Homo sapiens: one gene and its partners. The protein of the gene in region 3 interacts with the protein of the main gene of each other region in a pairwise test. Each region holds a gene or a part of one and is shown on either strand. Other genes may lie near its edges. The genes, in order: SLC18A1, FITM2, HTATIP2 and RAB5A.

Evidence for each region.
Region 1: the proteins of HTATIP2 (region 3) and SLC18A1 interact in a two-hybrid assay, tested with the Homo sapiens proteins (one large-scale study listed by BioGRID).
Region 2: the proteins of HTATIP2 (region 3) and FITM2 interact in binary tests that used the Homo sapiens proteins (3 or more experiments, as listed by UniProt).
Region 4: the proteins of HTATIP2 (region 3) and RAB5A interact in a protein complementation assay, tested with the Homo sapiens proteins (one study listed by BioGRID).

Annotation. Positions count from the first base shown.
Region 1 is NC_000008.11:20,161,381-20,166,136, reverse strand, and holds part of SLC18A1 (chromaffin granule amine transporter), read left to right. Parts: intron 1-1,029; coding exon 1,030-1,090; intron 1,091-1,172; coding exon 1,173-1,268; intron 1,269-4,756.
Region 2 is NC_000020.11:44,304,621-44,308,807, forward strand, and holds part of FITM2 (acyl-coenzyme A diphosphatase FITM2), read right to left. Parts: intron 2,621-4,187; coding exon 2,005-2,620; 3' UTR 1-2,004. UniProt on the Homo sapiens protein: Fatty acyl-coenzyme A (CoA) diphosphatase that hydrolyzes fatty acyl-CoA to yield acyl-4'-phosphopantetheine and adenosine 3',5'-bisphosphate.
Region 3 is NC_000011.10:20,376,354-20,381,109, reverse strand, and holds part of HTATIP2 (protein HTATIP2), read right to left. Parts: intron 4,531-4,756; coding exon 4,393-4,530; intron 1-4,392. UniProt on the Homo sapiens protein: Represses translation by preventing reactivation of elongation factor eEF1A. May also inhibit nuclear import by competing with nuclear import substrates for binding to a subset of nuclear transport receptors.
Region 4 is NC_000003.12:19,953,545-19,958,300, reverse strand, and holds part of RAB5A (ras-related protein Rab-5A), read right to left. Parts: intron 1-4,756. UniProt on the Homo sapiens protein: The small GTPases Rab are key regulators of intracellular membrane trafficking, from the formation of transport vesicles to their fusion with membranes.

The DNA of each region.
Region 1 (4,756 bases), on a different chromosome or scaffold from region 3:
AATCTTTAGAGTCAATTCCTAGAAGTGGGACTGTTGGGTCAAAGGGTTTATTGTACTTTTAAATGTATATTTTAATGATTTACATCAGTTTCTTTACTTCGAATAATAATTGGGTAAGCGAATGATCTCTTTAGTTTTAGGATCTCTAAATTTATCAATCCACTATTGTGTGTGTGCAGAGAGGGTTATCATACCAAAATGATCCAATCTATTACAAGATAGAAAGTAGTAAACACCATGAAGGATTAGGACATAGTGTTCAGGATGTCTGGAAGAGAGAGAAGCCCCAGCTACTGAGTCAGGGAGCTCTCTAGAAAAGAAGGAGCCATTTAAGCTTGACTTTAAAGAGTGGGTAGAACATGGAACTATGGAGAAGCTCAGAACGTGTAGTTTAGGCAAAGGCAATAATGATGGCTGAGGCACTGCTGGGATGCTTGGAAAGAGGGTGGGGCGACCAAGTTTAGATGAGAGTGTGTCCTGACGAGAGTGGGTCCTGGATGTTTAGGCTGTATTTTAACCCTGCTTCTTCTACCTTAGTTCAGTGTGGCTCAAAATGATCAGAATGAAGAATTCAGAAAGCTTGAGAGGCTTTCTGAGTTATGGCTTCTGTGCTTGCTTTTGGGATTCGGTGCTCTGCCTGTGGTTCTCCCAGGACAAATATTAGTACCAGGGAGATCTAGTGGAAACCAGGAGTCCAGACATCTATTGTCCAACCCTGACCTTGCTACCAATCCACTCTGACCTTGTTGATGGTCACGTGAACGCAGGAACCATGGCTGGAATATGTTGCTTCTCTATCTGTGACTATTACAGTGCCTACCTTTCACACAGGAGGGGTCCTGCCTCCAGCTTCCTCTGTGGCATCAGACAAGTCACTTTCTCTCCCTGTACTGGGGTTCCTGGTCTCTGCAGTAAAGGAGATACTGTAGATGGTCTCTAAGCCCATAATTGTACTTTCTCAGATTCTGTGAAAATAGGAGAGATGTATGCACTGTACAAATGGACATTTTTTGTTATCCATGTTCTCAGAGTGCCAAGGGGACTCCCCTCTTTATGCTTCTCAAAGACCCTTACATCCTGGTGGCTGCAGGTAAGCTGGCGATGACCTCCCATTGGGCGGGGAGTGTCTGGGCTTCAAGCAGCCACGGCTGCTCACAGAACAGTCTCCCCAGGGTCCATCTGCTTTGCCAACATGGGGGTGGCCATCCTGGAGCCCACACTGCCCATCTGGATGATGCAGACCATGTGCTCCCCCAAGTGGCAGCTGGGTAAGTGACCTCAGCACCCCCGCTCAGGGCCTGGCAGGAGGAGGTGGGTGCCATGAGTCCTTTCGTTCAATGTCACACAGGGACAACATGCTTCCTTTGTAGAATGACCTCCCACGTCCACACCCATGAATCAAGCCCAAGAGGGTGTGTGGTCCCTCAGAGAAGCAGTCTGAGAAAGGGGAGGGTGAGAGAGGATGAAAGGGGCTATGGAGAGGTCACATACCTAGCTGTGTAGTAGGATGATTAATGATTTCCAGTCCAAAGATTCAGGTTTTGGTTTCAGCTCCTTTGATTTTCTGTGAAAACTTGTGCAGATGCCTTAAACCCTCTGAGCATCACTTTTCTCATTGCTAAAATGAGCATCAAAATACTATCTAGTTCAAGAGAAATTGGATGAATAAATGACATATGAGGTGAAAATGCTTTGTACCCTGTACAATATTAATGTGCACCATTACCATCCACATTCTCCTCCCTTCAGCTCCTCATCCTCAAGACTACCCTTTGGTTATCTTTTTTACCTCTAAAAAGGGGTGTATGTAGCACTCACTTAGGAAAAGCTATGGGCCCAGGAGAGAGGGTTCCAGCTTCCTTTGTTCATGCAGCGACTTAGAGAGGAGCTTGGAGAGGAGGATCTAGCCCTTCCCAGGAACCCTGAGGAAAGAGGACAGGGAAGGCTACGTGCAAATTGCTCCATCACTGCAGGGAGGAGAGGCTTACGGGGCCAGAGGGGAAGCTGATAAGAACATGATATAGTTCAGCATGCAATAAAAAGCACTAAATCTAATTTTGGGGGGGCAATTCTAAGCAAGACTCCCAGCTGCACTCCTAGTGCCAAATTGAATTTTTATGGGTTGCAAGTGCTTTTGACCATGACGATTAATTGAGTTAGTCGGTATTCAGTGCAGATAATTCATCGCCTGCCCTAAGGCTCTGACCACTCAGGGTCTCGATACTAGTGAGCAGCTACAACACAGAGCAGCTCCTCCCCAGCAGCCTAGGGACCATTCTCAGTTGCCAGTTACCAATTACTCAGTTACCAGTCACTCAGTTGCCACCATCTTTTACAGCTTTCTCAATGCTATCTGGTCTGTAAAGTCTGACATCAAAGGTTGTCCAACAACTACATCAGAATCACCTAGAGAGCTTGTTAAAACTCTGATTGCTGGGAGACAGTAGGCAATTTAGTCAAAACAAGTTTTCATCCCTAGTAAGTCTGCAGGTGATGCTAATATAGCTGGTCAGTGATCACACCTAGAAAATCGCTGCTGTACATGAAGAGCATCCCTCAAAGGTGTTGGGAGCCAAAGGAGTCCATGCTTTTGAAAGTAATGTGTAGTCTGCCTCTGAGTGCTTGCTATGTGGCCCACCATATACTAGGTAGCATCACCAAGGGGAGGAAATAGCCCAGGTCCACCTGGGTTTGAATGCTGACCACGTCACTTACTGATTGTGACCTCGGATAAGTTATTTAACCTCTTTGACCTCTGATATGGTGTGAATGTGTCCCCCAAAATTTATATGTTGCAAATTGAATCCCCAGTGCAACAGTCTTGAGAAGTGGGACCTTTGAGAGATGATGAGATCATGGGAGCACCCTCATGAATGGATTAAGGCCATTATCATGGGAGTGAGTTTGTCATAATAAAAGGGGAGTTCAGCTCCCTTTACATCTCTCTCATGTGTGCTCTCTCTCCATGTGACCCCCTTTGGCCATGTTATGATCCAGCAACCAGGCACTCCCCAGGTGGCCAAACAGACACTAGAGGCTTGCCTTTGAACTTCTTAACCTCCAGAACCCTGAGCCAAATAAATCTCTTTCATTGATAAATCATGCACTCTGGTATTCTGTTATATTATAGCAGCAGAAAATGGACTAAGACAGAAAATGGGTAATGAGAAACCGGGCTGCTGCTATAACAAATACTTGAAAATATGGAAGCAGCTTTGGAACTGGAAAATTGGTAGAGGCTGCAATAATTTGGAGGAGCAGGCTAGAAAGAGCCTGTATTGCTGTGGTTAAGGCATTAAGGGTGATTCTGGTGAGGGCTCAGAAGAAGAGGAGAGCTATAGAGAAAGTCTGAATCTTTTTAGACATTGGTTAAGAGGTTGTGACCAGAATGTTGATAGAAATATGGACAGTGAAGGTCATTCTGACGAGGTCTCAGATAGAAATGAGGAACAAGGTATTGGACACTAGAGTAAAGGCCATCCTTGTTATACAGTTACAAAAAACTTGGCAGACTTGTATCCATAACCTAGGACTTCATGGAATGAAGAACTTAGAGGCAATAAACTAGGATATCTGGCAGAAGAAATATCTAAGCAGCAAAGCTTCAGGCTGCTTTGTGGCTGTTTTAACTGCATATATAGTGACATGTGAAAGCAAAGAAATGATTTAAAGGTGAAATTTATGGTTAAAAGAGAAACAAAACAGAAAGACTTGGAAAATTTGCTGCCTGGCCTTGGAAAGAAAGAAAAGGCATCTTTAGGAGAGCACACCAAGACTGTGGCCAAGCAACCTAAAGTGATTAGTGTGGATAAAAGTGAGCCAGGCACCACTTATTAAGACTGTGGGAGAAAGACCCAAAGGCATTTTAGAGACCTTCGAAGCTGTGCTTCCCATTACTGGCCCAGAGATGTAGGAGGGCAGAATGGTTTGGGAATAAGCCTGGGACACCCTCCATGGGCTCACTGCCCAGGACCACCTTGGGACTCTGCTCTCTGCGTTTCAGTGCAGTGCCCCTCAACTGTGCCAGCCATGGCTCAAGTGGGCCCAGATGTGGCCTGGCCTCCCACTCTGGAGGGTGCAAGTGGTAAGCCTTGGTGGTGTCTATGTGGTGCAAATTTTGCACGTGCGCAGAATGCAAGAGCTATGGGTGCATGACTTCTTCCACCTAAATTTCAAAAGATGCCATGCACAGCCACTTCCAAGATCACGGAACTGTAGGGGCACCAGCATGGTGGCCTGCAAGCACAAGACTCCAACCCATGATTGCTGCTGGGTAGACTCAGCCCGGAAAGACCACAGACATGGGGCTGCCTGATGCCTTAGGGGTCCAAACTCCACTCCAGTGTGCCCAGGATTTTGGACATGGAGTCAAAGGCAATTATTCTCCAGCTTTAAGACATAATATTGTTTTCTGTTTTGGGCTTTGGACTTTCGTGGGACCTGTTACCCCTTTCTTCTTCCCTGTTGCTTCCTTTTGAAATAAGAATGCCTGTTCTATCTTTGTTCCACCATTATTTTTGAAAGTAGGTAAATTATCCCTTGGTGTGCATAGGAGAGTGGTTCTAGGACTCCTCACGGATACCAAACTCAAAGGATGTTCAAGTCCCTTACATAGAATGGCATCGTATTTGCATATAATCTACACACGTACTTCCATGTACTATAATCATTTCTCAATGACTTGTAACACCTAATGCAATGGAAATGCTATATAAATAGTTGTTATACTGTATTATTTTCTTTTTTGTATTATTTT
Region 2 (4,187 bases), on a different chromosome or scaffold from region 3:
TTTGCAAACAGGTTGGCTTTTTGCCATCAGAGGGAGGCATTTTACTTCACTTCTGAATTATCATAATCTTGTCCAACAGGTACAGATGCCCTGGGCCACAGCAGAGTGATCAGTGCACTCAGCACATGACCCTGAAGCACACTGTTCAGTCTATACCACTGATATGTGGTCAGGGACATTTCGGTGCAAGAACGCATTCTGCAAAATTACCTTGATTCACCTTAAAATTCAACAGGCTGTTACTAAAATGCCTGCTTTCTGGTTTGATTATCTTATTTATTTATAGAAACCAGGGTCTCACTATGTTGCCCAGGCTGGTCTCAAACTCCTGGGATCCAGTAATCCTCCCACCTCAGCCTCCCAAAGTGCCAGGATTATAGGTGTGAGCCACTACACCTGGCCCAGGTTTCATTGCTAACAGAGAAAACAGCCCCATGAGGTGGAATTTAAGACTGTAAGACCAGAGTTTGGTTCATAACAAGTACATTAGTGTTCTAAACCAACCAACCAATCAACCAGCCAACCAACCAACCAACAAACCCTCAAAACAACCTACATGTGCCAGAGTGCAGCACTGGCCTTGTGAGTTATTTTCAGGAGTTTTATCAACAAAGAACAAATGTCACAGTTCTTATCAAAAACTGTAAAGGATTCGCTCAAAATAGAACAGAAAAAAAGTAATCTTATTGCTCCAAAAAAACCAGCATATAGTAATAGAAAACATGGACAGAAAATGATCATAGTCCATTACGTATGAATCATCCAATACTTGGTCGGAGAGGCACTGCATCTAAAAGGGCCTGTTTTGGTGGCTAATCGCAAGTCAGTTGCAATATTTAAACACTTCATGGATGAAACAAATATTACAACCAGAGAGTGTCCTTCAGGCATCAGGCTGTTTTTATAAAGAACCCTGCCTGAGCCGGGCGCGGTGGCTCATGCCTGTAATCCCAGCACTTTGGGAGGCCGAGGCAGGTGGATCACCTGCGGTCAGGAGTTTGAGACCAGCCTGACCAACATGGAGAAACCCCATCTCTACTAAAAATACAAAATTAGCCTGGTGTGGTGACGCATGCCTGTAATCCCAGCTACTCGGGAGGCTGAGGCAGGAGAATCGCTTGAACCTGGGAGGTGGAGGTTGCGGTGAGCCGAGATCGGGCCATTGCACCCCAGCCTGGGCAACAAGAGCAAAACTCCATCTCAAAAAAAAGAAAAAAACCCTGCCTGAAATAGATGCCTATGCAAAACTGACCAGTGGGAAATACTGTTTTGTTTTGTTTTTTCTTTTTTGAGGTGGAGTCTGCTCTGTCACCCAGGCTGGAGTGCAGTGGTGCGATCTCAGCTCACTGCAACCTCCACCTCCTAGGTCCAAGCAATTCTCCTGCCTCAGCCTCCTGAGTAGCTGGGATTACAGGCATGTGCCACCACACCCAGCTAATTTTTGTATTTTTAGAAGAGACGAGGTTCGCCATGTTGGACAGGCTGGTCTCGAACTCCCAATCTCAGGTGATCCGCCTGCCTCGGCCTCCCAAAGTGCAGGGATTAGAGGTGTGAACCACCATGCCTGGCTGGAAAATACTGTTAAGTAACAGCAGTAAGAGCCGTGAAAATCTAAAGACAACTGGAACCAGGGAGAAGGCAGCAAAGGAGTCCCAAGGCTCTGGCCACTCCTTTAGCCACACCATAAAGGCTTTCCTGATTCTGCCCTTTTGCTGAGCCTTAGGTCCCCACTCTAGGGACAAAAGGAGTGTTCCAGATAAAGGTCAAGTCTTACCAGGGACAAAAAGTGCCTAACTGGGAATGGTGGTGCTTGCAACACTGGTGATGTCGCCAAGAATAGTCTGAAGACTAAACTCACTCCCCAGACTTCAGCACCACCCACCAAAACTGCCTGGTACACTTTCCCTCTGAAGTAGGATCAATAATTTAGCCAAATAACTAAGCAAAATATATATTTGAAAAATAGATTAGCCATTGTCCTTCTGTCCCCCCTCTGTTACTCTTTTATTTCTTGTAACTATCTTGCTTCAAATTCAAACTACAGCTCTGGGGAGGAAGTCCTGGGGAAAAGGCTTTCGGATACCAAAACCCGTATGTCCCGTACCAGCTCAGCAAACCAAACAAGGTGCCAAACACCTTCTGGGACAAGTTGTGGAAATAAACAGCTGTGCACAGAAACATCAACACCCAGATGAAAGTCAGAATGCCCAGGGCCACAACCAGGGTGGTGATGGCGGTGTGGAGGCAGTGGCTTCGGTCCGTCTTCACCTCATGCAGCACAGACATCTCTTCTACAATCATGAGGGCGCAGAAGGTCAGCAGGAAGGAGTGACCTGAGATGTCAAAGCCATGCCAAAAGCCCCCTTCCTGGTGGCACTGCTGCTTGCTCTGGTGTTCCTTTCTGACCCCCTCCAGGGCTGGGGACTGGTAGCAGCTGCCCGTGTAGTGTTCGATGTTGGAGAAGATGGAGGTGCAGATGTACCAGATGGCCGTGCCCACAAGCAGGGTGCTCAGCCGCCGCAGGACCAAGCCAGCCTTGCCGGTCAGATGGTAGTTGGTGAGGGCAATGAAAGGCAGAAGGAGACAGAACGTCCAGGCCCAGGCCACTTTGACAAAATACCTGACAGAGGAGGAAAGTGGAAGTGAAGAGAGGGAACACGGTGGAGAGGACACCATGTCAGGACTCAGGTCTCTACACTGTCAGGGGAGGGAAAATGAGAAAACTGATCAAAGCTACAGCTCATAGCAACTATCATGTTTTAGGTACTTACCATATACTTCACTTACTAAGTACTTTATTTATTTATTTATTTATTTATTTTTGAGACAGAGTCTCGCTCTGTCACTCGGGCTGGAGTGCAGTGGCGCAATCTCAGCTCACTGCAACCTCCGCCTCCCGGGTTCAAGCAATCCTCCTGCCTCAGCCTCCCAAGTAGCTGGGATTACAGGTGCGCATCACCCCGCCTGGCTAATTTTTGTATTTTTAGTAGAGAGGGGGTTTTACCATGTTGGCCAGGCTGGTCTCGAACTCCTGGCCTCAAATGCTCCGGCCACCTTGGCCTCCCAAAGTCCTGGGATTACAGGCATGAGCCACTGTGCCCAGCCCTCCCCTCCTCCCCTACCCCACCCCTGTGTAAGTACTTTAAATGTATTAACCAGGTAATCCATTAACAACTCTATGAGTTGGCCGGGCGCGGTGGCTCACGCCTGTAATCCCAGCAGTTTGGGAGGCCGAGGTGGGCAGATCACGAGGTCAGGAGATCGAGACCATCCTGGCTAACATGGTGAAACCCTGTCTCTACCAAAAATACAAAAAATTAGCCAGGCGTGGTGGCGGGCGCCTGTAGTCCCAACTACTCGGGAGGCTGAGGCAGGAGAATGGCATGAACCCGGGAGGCGGAGCTTGCAGTGAGCCGAGATTGTGCCACTGCACTCCAGCCTGGGCGATAGAGCGAGACTCCATCTCAAAAACAAAACAAAACAAACGAAAAAAAACAACTCTATGAGTTAAGTACTGTTAATATCTGCCTTTAACAGAGAAGAAAACTGAGACAGAGGGAAGTGCCACACCAAAAGTGGAGGCCAGAAGCGGAGGAGCCAGGATTCAAATCCAGGATCTGTCGTCTTAAGCACTATGTTATTTACTTAGGAAAATAATATAAATAAATAATAATAACTGAGCATTTACCAAATGCCAGGAGCTTTCACACACATTCACTTTCCCATAGAGCACTCACATTTACCCTGGGAGGAAGGTGCCATTGTTCCATTTTATAGACAAGAAATCTAAGGCTCAGAAAAGTTCAGTACCTTGCCAGGGTCACACTCACACAACCAGCATGAACAGATTAAACCACGGTTTGGATAGCCCCCAGACTCATGCTGTTTCTCCCATACCATATGTGGTTTTTTATTTTTTATTTTTATTTTTCTGAGACAGGATCTCACTCTGTCCCCCAGGCTTGCGTGCAGTGGCACAATCACACCTCACTGCAGCCTCAAACTCCTGGGCTCAAGCAATCCTCCTGCCTCAGCCTCACAAATAGCTGGGATTACAGGTGTGTACCAATGTGCCTGGCTAATTTTTTTTAATTATTATTTTTGTGGAGATGGGGCCTTGCTATGTTGCCCCCACTGGTCTTGAACTCCAGGCCTCAAGCAATTATCCTGCCTCAGCCTCCCAAAGT
Region 3 (4,756 bases):
GTAACCTTCATCACGATCTAAGTTTTAAAATATTTCATCACCCTGAAAAGAAATCCCATATCATTAGCAGTCACTCCTCGTACCCTACCCTCTGGGGACCTAGTCAACCACTAATGTACCTTCTATCTCTATAGATTTGCCTATTCTGGACATTTCATATAAATGAAATCATATAATTCGTGGTCTTTTGTGACTGTCTCCTCACACTTAGCATAATATTTTCAAGGTTCACCCATGTTGTAGTATGTATCATTTCTTTTTATAGCTGAATAATATTCTATTGCATGAATATATCACATTTTATTCATCTATTCATCAGTCGATGGCTATCTAGGTTGTTCCCACTCTTTGGCCATTATAAATAATGCTGCTATGAACAGTCATACACAAGATTTTATGTGTACACACATTTCTTAGCTTTTTTTTTTTTTTTTTTTTGAGATGGAGTCTCACTCTGTCGCCCAGGCTGGAGTGCAGTGGCGCAATCTCAGCTCACTGCAAGCTCCGCCTCCCGGGTTCATGCCGTTCTCCTGCCTCAGCCTCCCGAGCAGCTGGGACTACAGGCACCTGCCATCACGCCCGGCTAATTTTTTGTATTTTTAGTAGAGACGGGGTTTCACCGTGTTAGCCAGGATGGTCTCAATCTCCTGACCTCGTGATCCGCCCGCCTCGGCCTCCCAAAGCGCTGGGATTACAGGCGTGAGCCACCGCGCCCAGCCCATTTCTTAGCTTTTTAAAAGATTTGTTTTGTCTCTATTAGCAGTGTGCATAAAAGAGATACCATAGCAGGCTGAGACTGCTATCCTTAGAAAGGCCTGTTACAAGTTTGGCCCCTGGCTTGTGCTTGCAACCTTGGATTTTCGGTGTGTTCCCACCATTCCCTATCTGATAAGGGTCATGTACTATGCCTAAACTGTCTGTACAAACAATGTGGTTTATGCTGAAAACTTGCCTTTCTTCTGGAGGGCTGCAATTTGGCTAGGCCAATGTGCCTATGTAACTGGCTCCCATAAAAACCCTGCATTCCTAGGCTCAGATGAGTTTCTCTGGCAGAAAACGTTCATCGCTGGAGACATTAAGCACATCCTGTGCAAGCTCTATGGGGAGAGGCCTCTTGGAAGCTTGTACCTACTTTCCTCCAGACTTCACCCGACACACCTTTTCCCTTTGCTGATTTTGCTCTATATCCTTTCAATGCGATAAGTTGTAGCTGTGAGTATGACTATATGCTGAGTCCTATGAAACCTTCTAGTGAATTACCAAACTTGGGGGTGTCTTTGAGGATCCCTCAATACAAGCAGATTATAAACTCCTTGAGGTCAAGGATGATACCCAATAATAAAATGTCACATGTCTGGAAAGTATACCTTCACCCTGAATAGATGAGGAAACCAAAGCTTATAAACCCTGAGAACAGAGGACATGAGGCCCATCCAGTACTCTGGGCTCCACATCCTGACACGTCTCCCCACGGCACCAGCAGAATGCCCATAAAGCACATGATTGATCCAAGCCCCCAGAGCTGGCCCACCATGAATGAATGCAATTGAAACTTCATTGAGTAGAATAAATGTTCCTAAACAATAAAGGAGTTTCTAAAATTGGGTGGGGCGGGGGAGTTCATACACACATGGAGGCTGAGAAAATAGGCAATAAATACTAGGAATGTTACACACAGTAGTTGAAGGATTATTTTGGAAAGATAATCTTTCCAAATTGTAAAAGCAATTATATATTGTTCAGCGTCATTCTGGGTTGGATCATTTGGTTGTCATTTCTGTCCTTTATTAATCTAATTCATAATCCCAGGCTGCAGGTAATGCAGGCCAATTGCAGTGAAATCAGAAGTGTCTTTCCGTTGTATTGGCCTTAATATTTGCTGAGGCTCTGTCACGGTCCAATCTCTGCTGGGTCCCTTTTGCATGTATTAGTGACAAAGGCTATTCATTACTTAATAGCTAGTGGCATAGGCCTTGGAATCAGCCTGGGTTCAAGCTCTAGCTTTGCCGCTTAACAGCTGGTGTTTTTGTTGTTGTTGTTGTTGTTGTTGTTTGTTTTGTTTTGTTTTGTTTTTGAGACAGAGTCTCACTCTGTCCCCAAGCTGGAGTGCAGTGATGTGATCTTGGCTCACTGCAGCCTCTGCTTCCCGGGTTCATGCAATTCTCCTGCCTCAGCCTCCCGAGTAGCTGGGATTACAGGCATACACCACTGTGCCAGTTAATTTTTGTATTTTTAGTACAGACAGGGTTTTGCCACGTTTCCCAGGCTGGTTTCAAACTCCCAGCCTCAAGTGATCTTCCCACCTCGGCCTCCCAAAGTGCTAGAATTACAGGCGTGAGCCACCGTGCCCAGCCAACAGCTGGTGGTCTTAATATCACAGTACCTGTTTCCACGCAAATGCACATAAAAGCCCTCAGAATACTGCCTGGCTCATTTAGTGTTAGCTATTTTTTTAAAAATCTGGTTAAATCATTATTATAACCCAGTGAGTCAGTAGTAACGCCTTTATCTTTAACAATGAGGAAATATCTTATGTATATTTTCTTTCCTAAAAGGTATAAATGTTGATCTTGCTAATGAGAGCAAAAATCCTATTTGATAACCTTTCTCAGAACCCACATGTGTCAGTGTTTTAAAAAACAAGTTGGGCCTGATCCCTCATGCCTGTAGTCCCAGCTGCTCAGGAGGTTGAGGCTGGAGATTGTTTGAGCCCAGGAATCTGAGGTTGTAGTGAGCTGTGACCGCACCACTGCACTTCAACCTGGGTGACAGAGCAAGACTTTGACTCTAAAAAAAAAGGAAAACAGATTTTTTCCTTTTAAGAATTGTTCTAAACTCTGACAATTAAGTGGAAACTTTTCCATTCTTCATGTAATTTCATTGGTGGCTCACTGATCTTCATCTGGTTCAAAATACTATTTTAGGATAGGTGAGATATGGCTCAGCTATAAGCCATGTGAAAAAAATCTGGAAATTTTTAATATTACAGGCTGATCATGAGCCAACAACATAATAAGGATGTTTGGTAAAATAGTAACAATCTTATATCCTATTTTTTTAAAAAAACATAGTGTTCGGAGCATGAATAGTACTCCCAGTGCAGTTCCAGTATAATATCACTGCAAAGTTCACCCTTAGCAAAGTGATGCAGTCATGAAGGAGCTAGACACAGGAACCCATAAAGAATGGTGCAAGGATTTAAAGGTGTTATGCCTGGGAAACATACAATTAAGGGGGTCATAATCTCCAAATGTCTTAAAAACTACAATGCAAAAGAAAGACTGGACGTATTTTTGTTATTTTAAAAGGCAGAACTGATAACAATTTGTATTTACATAACAATAAATTTCACTTCAAGGTAAAGACTTTTGGACAAGTAGATCTGACCCAAAATAGAAAAAGTTGGCTAACGAGATAGTAATCTCTGTAGTGCTGGAGATATTTAAGCAGAAAGGAGATGAACTTCTGTAAAAGGACTTCACATAGGAAAAGTCTATGGCTGAATGACCTCTGTGGCTCTGCTGCTTAAACTGTGGGCACCTGGGGTGCAAAGGGAGGCACACAAAGACAAAGCCATGCCTATCTTCCAACAGCATCAATTTAACTGAAAGGTAAGTTAATAGAAACCTTTTAAATTAAAATAAACAGGGATATGTATAGTACTAAGAATAGCAAAATGTGCATAAATTTTTAAAAGATAAAACGTTAAGACTTTTAAGAAAGTTGAGGCCAGACGCAGTGGCTCACACCTGTAATCCCAGCACTTTGGGAGGCTGAGATGGGCTGATCATTTGAACTCAGGAGTTTGAGACCAGCCTGGGCAACATGGCAAAACCCCATCTCTACCAAAAATACAAAAATTAGCCAGGCATGGTGGCTCATGCCTCTAGTCCCAGTTACTTGGCGGGGCAGAGGCTGCAGCGAGCCAAGATCATGCCACTGCACTCCAGCCTGGGAACCTGTCTCAAAAAAAAAAAAAAGAAAAGAAAGTTGAGTCTGTAACTAGAATACTGCTTCAGGATAGATTTCTCCAAATCTCTACACAAATAAAAGCTCTTCTTTCCGCTCAGTCATTAGGGAGACTGACGGAAAAGTTTAAGAATCACTGCCTCCAAGTCTCTTCCAATGCTAAGCTGCCATGCTGACAGTCAAGGCTGGAGATGCCATATCTCATTCCATTTGTTGCTGGATAATTAATAGAGAGGAAGACATTGGAAATTACCTTTCCAATCATTCCTGTTTACTAAATATATTCCTGCAGTCCCGTAGCCATACAAATGCATAATATGATGCATTTGATGGTTTTTGTATTATATAATATTTTATATTCTTTAGTACTGCCAAATAGCTAGGGTTCTCCAAAGTGTATGAAAAACAGAAACTTGCACAAACCTTAACTTGTAGATATAAAAAATTGCTTGATTTATCAGCTCCTTTAGAGGATAGCAAGTTGAAATGTTTGCACCCTCCAGCTTTTGCCAGCTCTGCAGACTTCAGCACATAATCTCGGTCAACACGAACAAATCCCTCCTAAGGGGGAAAAGGACATGAGTTATTTCCAAAAAGCAGCAAGTTCATCTTAAAGATTACTACTTGGCTTGGGTAGCAGGCTGGGAGGCCTAGAAGGATGGAGATCTAAATAAAATGTGTCCAAGCAATACATGAAAGTCAGGCTTAGACCCTGGGAAAGGCTCCAGGTCTGGTCCTCTGGATAGGCACACCAGCTTTAGCAGCAAGACTGGACTGCAATAAGGAA
Region 4 (4,756 bases), on a different chromosome or scaffold from region 3:
AAATTCTGAATATGTACTTTTTAGGAGAAAATATGATGAACAAAGATATTATTATTTTGCTTGAAACCAAATGATTAACTTCCACAAATTTTAACTATCAATGTATCAGAAAGTAGAATGAATACTTCAAACACACAATTTTTCTCACGAATCAAAAACCACATGCTGGTGGTTTGGTCTCTAGGTCTTCTATCCTTTCTCAAAAGCACTTTTAACAATGTGCACATGCAAAAAGGTAAAAGCACATTAAATAAATGCACAGATTATAATTATACAAAGAAGTCATTCTGAAGGCTAACAAGTGAAGGGCAATTGTAGAAAGCTTTCTACTACTGGAAAAACATGAGTTATTTGGATTTAAATTTTCTGGCTAGCTTTTCTGTTTAGGAAGTAACTTTATTCCCCCCAGCTTTATTAAGGTATTGTTGAAAAATAAAAATCGTTATGTATTTACAATATATACATATGTATATTAACATGATGTTTTGATACATGTACACATTGTGAGGTGACTAAATCAAGGTAATTCAATATTGATCACCTCGCCTACTTACCTTTTTTTTTTTTTTTGAGACAGAGTCTCACTCTGTTGCTCAGGCTGGAGTGCAGTGGTGCTATCTCAGCTCACTGCAACCTCCGCGACAGAGTCTCACTCTGTTGCTCAGGCTGGAATGCAGTGGCGCTATCTGGGCTCACTGCAACCTCTGCCTCCCAGGTTCAAGCAATACTCATGCCTCAGCCTCCCGAGTAGCTGGAATTACAGGCATGCGCGACCACGCCCAGCTAATGTTTGCTTTTTTTTTTTTTTTTAGTAAGGATGGGGTTTGGCCATGTTGGCCAGGCTGGTCTCAAGCGATCTGACCACTTTGGCCTCCCAAAGTGTTGGGATTACAGGCATGAGCCATGCACCCGGCACTTACTATTTTTTAATGGTGAGGACATTTAAGAATTTAGCAGTTTTCAAGTACACATTATTAAGTAGTTACTGGAAAAAACTTTAATATATGCACACGTGTAGTACTTTAGCCCTGTAATTTCTCCCTCTGAGAAACTTCCACAAATAACACAGTTGGGCTGGGCACAGTGGCTTACACCTTTCATCCCAGCACCTTGGGAGGCTGAGGTGGGAGGACTGCTGTAGCCCAGGAGTTTGAGACCAGCTTAGGCACCAACAGTGAGATCTGTCCCTACAAAAAAATAAAAAATTAGCCAAGTGTGGGGTGCATGCCTATAGTCAGTCCCAGCTACCTGGGAGGACCACTTGAGGCCACGTCAAGGCTGCAGTGAGCTTTGATGCCACCACTGTACACCAGCCTGGGCAACAGAGCAGGCTGTTTAAAAAAAAAAAAAAAAAGGAAAAAAAACACAAAATTTTTCAAATCTTCAAATTTTCTAAATCAAACGCTATGCACTAGGTGTAACAGCTACCATCTCAAGATAATAGTATGTCATGACCAAACAACAAAAATATCAACAATGACAAAACGATTCAGCCAAAAGTTAACAGTGGTGATGGTAACTGTAATAGCTATAATTTAATAAACCTTTTACTGTGCCAGGCATTGTGGTAAAAACTTCAATCTGGATACAGTCTCTCTTAACCACAATAGTTTATTCTTTAGAATGACTTGGCCATAAATTGTTAGGTAAAATAGTATGTTAATAATAACTTTGAAATAAGCCTTGTTTTTCTTCATTTTAACAGTAACTTTTATTCCTGTTACAGGTTGTTTTAGACTAAAAACAACTAGTTGGCCATGCTAACCAATTTAGATGGATGTTAAATATGTAAGTAGAAACAGCACTTCACTTAAGAGTTAATAATTGCACTAAATTTCCTTTTTTTTGAGACGGAGTCTCGCCCTGTCGCCCAGGCTGGAGTGCAATGGCGCGATCTCGGCTCACTGCAACCTCCGCTTCCTGGGTTCAAATGTTTCTCCTGCCTCAGCATCCTGAGTAGCTGGGGTTATAGGCACCCACCACCACGCCTAGCTAATTCTGGTATTTTTACCATGTTGGCCAGGCTGGTCTCGAACTCCTGACCTCGTGATCTGCCAGTGTGCTGGCACCCTCCCAAAGTGCTGGGATTACAGGCATGAGCCACTGCGCCCGGCCTACACTAAATTTCTTAATTAATTTTGTGTATTATCAGGCCTTGATCATTTGTGACAAGAAAGGAGAGCAGCAGTGGTACAGATGACTGAAAACTATGGGTACTCCCTAAGTAGAGAAAAAGCAGAATACTCTTGATTGGACAGAGGGATCATACTTTCCTAAAGATGTCTGGCAGGTGGCTAACAGGAAGGCATTCTCCTATAAAGAGATACAGATAACATGTAATGTGAGCAGTACATAATACATGTAATTCTCAAACTAGGTTAGTTGCATGAACAATTTTTTTTTTAAGACGGAGTCTCGCTGAGACACCCAGGCTGGAGTGCAATGGCATGATCTCGGCTCATTGCAACAACCTCCTCCGCCTCCTGGGTTCAAGCGAATCTCCTGCCTCAGCCTCCCAAGTAGCTGGGACTACAGGCGCACGCCACCATGCCTGGCTAATTTTTGTATTTTTAGCAGAGACAGGGTTTCATCACATTGGCAAGCTGGTCTCGAACTCCTGACCTCGTGATCCGCCCGCCTCAGCCTCCCAAAGTGTTGGGATTACAGGTATGAGCTACCGCGCCCAGTCAACAATGTTTTTAAAAATCTGACAAACACCACACCTCAAAAAAACCCCCCAATTATTCCATGTATGGGTGAATCAATGTTAGTACCAATGTAAAATCAACTACTCAAACGTAACATGCCATTAGAATCATCTGGAAAACTTATTAAAACCTAGATTGTTGGTCCCACCCAAATGTTTTGATTCAACACGGGATTCTACATTTTAACAAGTTCCTAGTTAATGCAGCTACTTCTGGAAGTGGGAACGCTCTTTGAGGACCACTGTTCTAAGCTAATGTACAAAAATCACAGAACCAGCAAGAGGAATGTTATTTTCATGTACAGTTCCATCATCTAAACTTTAGAGTTTATAACACATTTTTTGATTAGTGCATACAAAATTGTAACTGTGGTATGAAGCACTTTTCTCAGAAGAGAAAAAAAGGATTGTCTGCTTGCTATTTCACTGCATATTCTAACCACTGAGGATTAATTTGTTTATAAATATCACATAAATGTCTTCTTAAAAATAAGTATTTTTTGAGAGTATTTACTGAAGAGCTACCAAGCCTAGAGATGCAGTACCAAGTAAAGAAGGAAGACAACTCTCTGAGCCTACTGCTCCCTGCTAATCTCTGGGCTAACTTTAGACCAACAATAGAAACATAAATGTCATGCAAACTTTAAACCCATACAAACAAGCTAGAATTCTCTAAATTGCTAAATCTACGGCACGCAATTTCATCAGAAGTGCTATAGGGGTAGGATGCATGAAGTATGGTGAGGCAACAGGGATTCTTTGTTTTGTTTTGTTTTTGAGACAGGGTTCTCACTGTCACCCAGGCTGGAGTGTGGTGGTGCAGTCTCGGCTCACTGTAACCTCCGCCTCTTCAGTTCAAGCAATTCTCCCATTTCAGCCTTCTCAGTAGCTGGGACTACAGGTGTGTGCCACCATGCCCGGTTAATTTTCGTATTTTTTGTAAAGACGGGGTTTTGCTATGTTGGCCAGGCTGGTCTCAAACTCCTGGACTCAAGCGATCTGCCCACCTCAGCTTCCCAAAGTGCTGGGATTACAGATGCAAGCCACCGCACACAGCGCAACAGGAATTCGTAAATCAAGTTATTGTATTTAGGAAGAACCACACAAATTACAGAAGAAATCTTGATATTCTTAATGAATCCAGAATCCACAAATCAAGAGTGTAACATATGATATCCACCTTCGAACACAATCAAATAGAGATTAAAATTTTGAGTGCTTCAGAACAATAACTCATGTTAGGAGATATAAACAGTAAAGTGAAAAATTAAACAGTTGAGGCCAGGCGTGGAGGTTCACGCCTATAATTCCAGCACTTTGGGAGGCCGAGGCAGGTGGATCACTTGAGGTCAGGAGTCTGAGACCAGCCTGGCCAAGATGGCAAAACCCTGTCTCTACTAAAAATACAAAAGTTCACTGGGATTGGTGGTGTGGGCCTGTAATCCCAGCTACTCAGGAGGCTGAGGCAGGAGAACTGCCTGAACCTGGGAAGTAGAGGTTGCAGTCAACCTAGATCACACCACTGCACTCCAACCTGGGCCACGTAGTGAAATTCCGTCTCAAAAAAAATAAACCAACAGTTGAAATGCAAAAGAGTTGGTTGGCTTCATTTTTCAGGTAACTTCTACCACATGACAGTCAAAACAAAAATACGTATTACCTACAAGTTATGGCCCTTTCAGGTTGATCATGAAATAGCTCAAACCTTAAAATTCTTAAATGCTTTACATCTACTCTAGTTCCTAAAGGTGAAGAGCTATGAGTACAGAGCATAAAAGAATAGTGTCCACAGCTATAACCATAATGGTACTGTCATACCTCCTGAATAGTATTCACATGGGGTCAGCACAGTGAAAAAGTATCCAATAAAGATTAACAGAAAGTTGGGCCAGGGGCAGTGGCTCATGCCTGTAATCCCAGCACTTGGAGAGCCCGAGGTAGGCAGATCACTTGAGGCCAGGAGTTCAAGACCAACCCGACCGACATGGTGAAACCCCATCTCTACTAAAAATACAAAAATTGGCCAGGAGTGGTGGCTTGCGCCTGTAG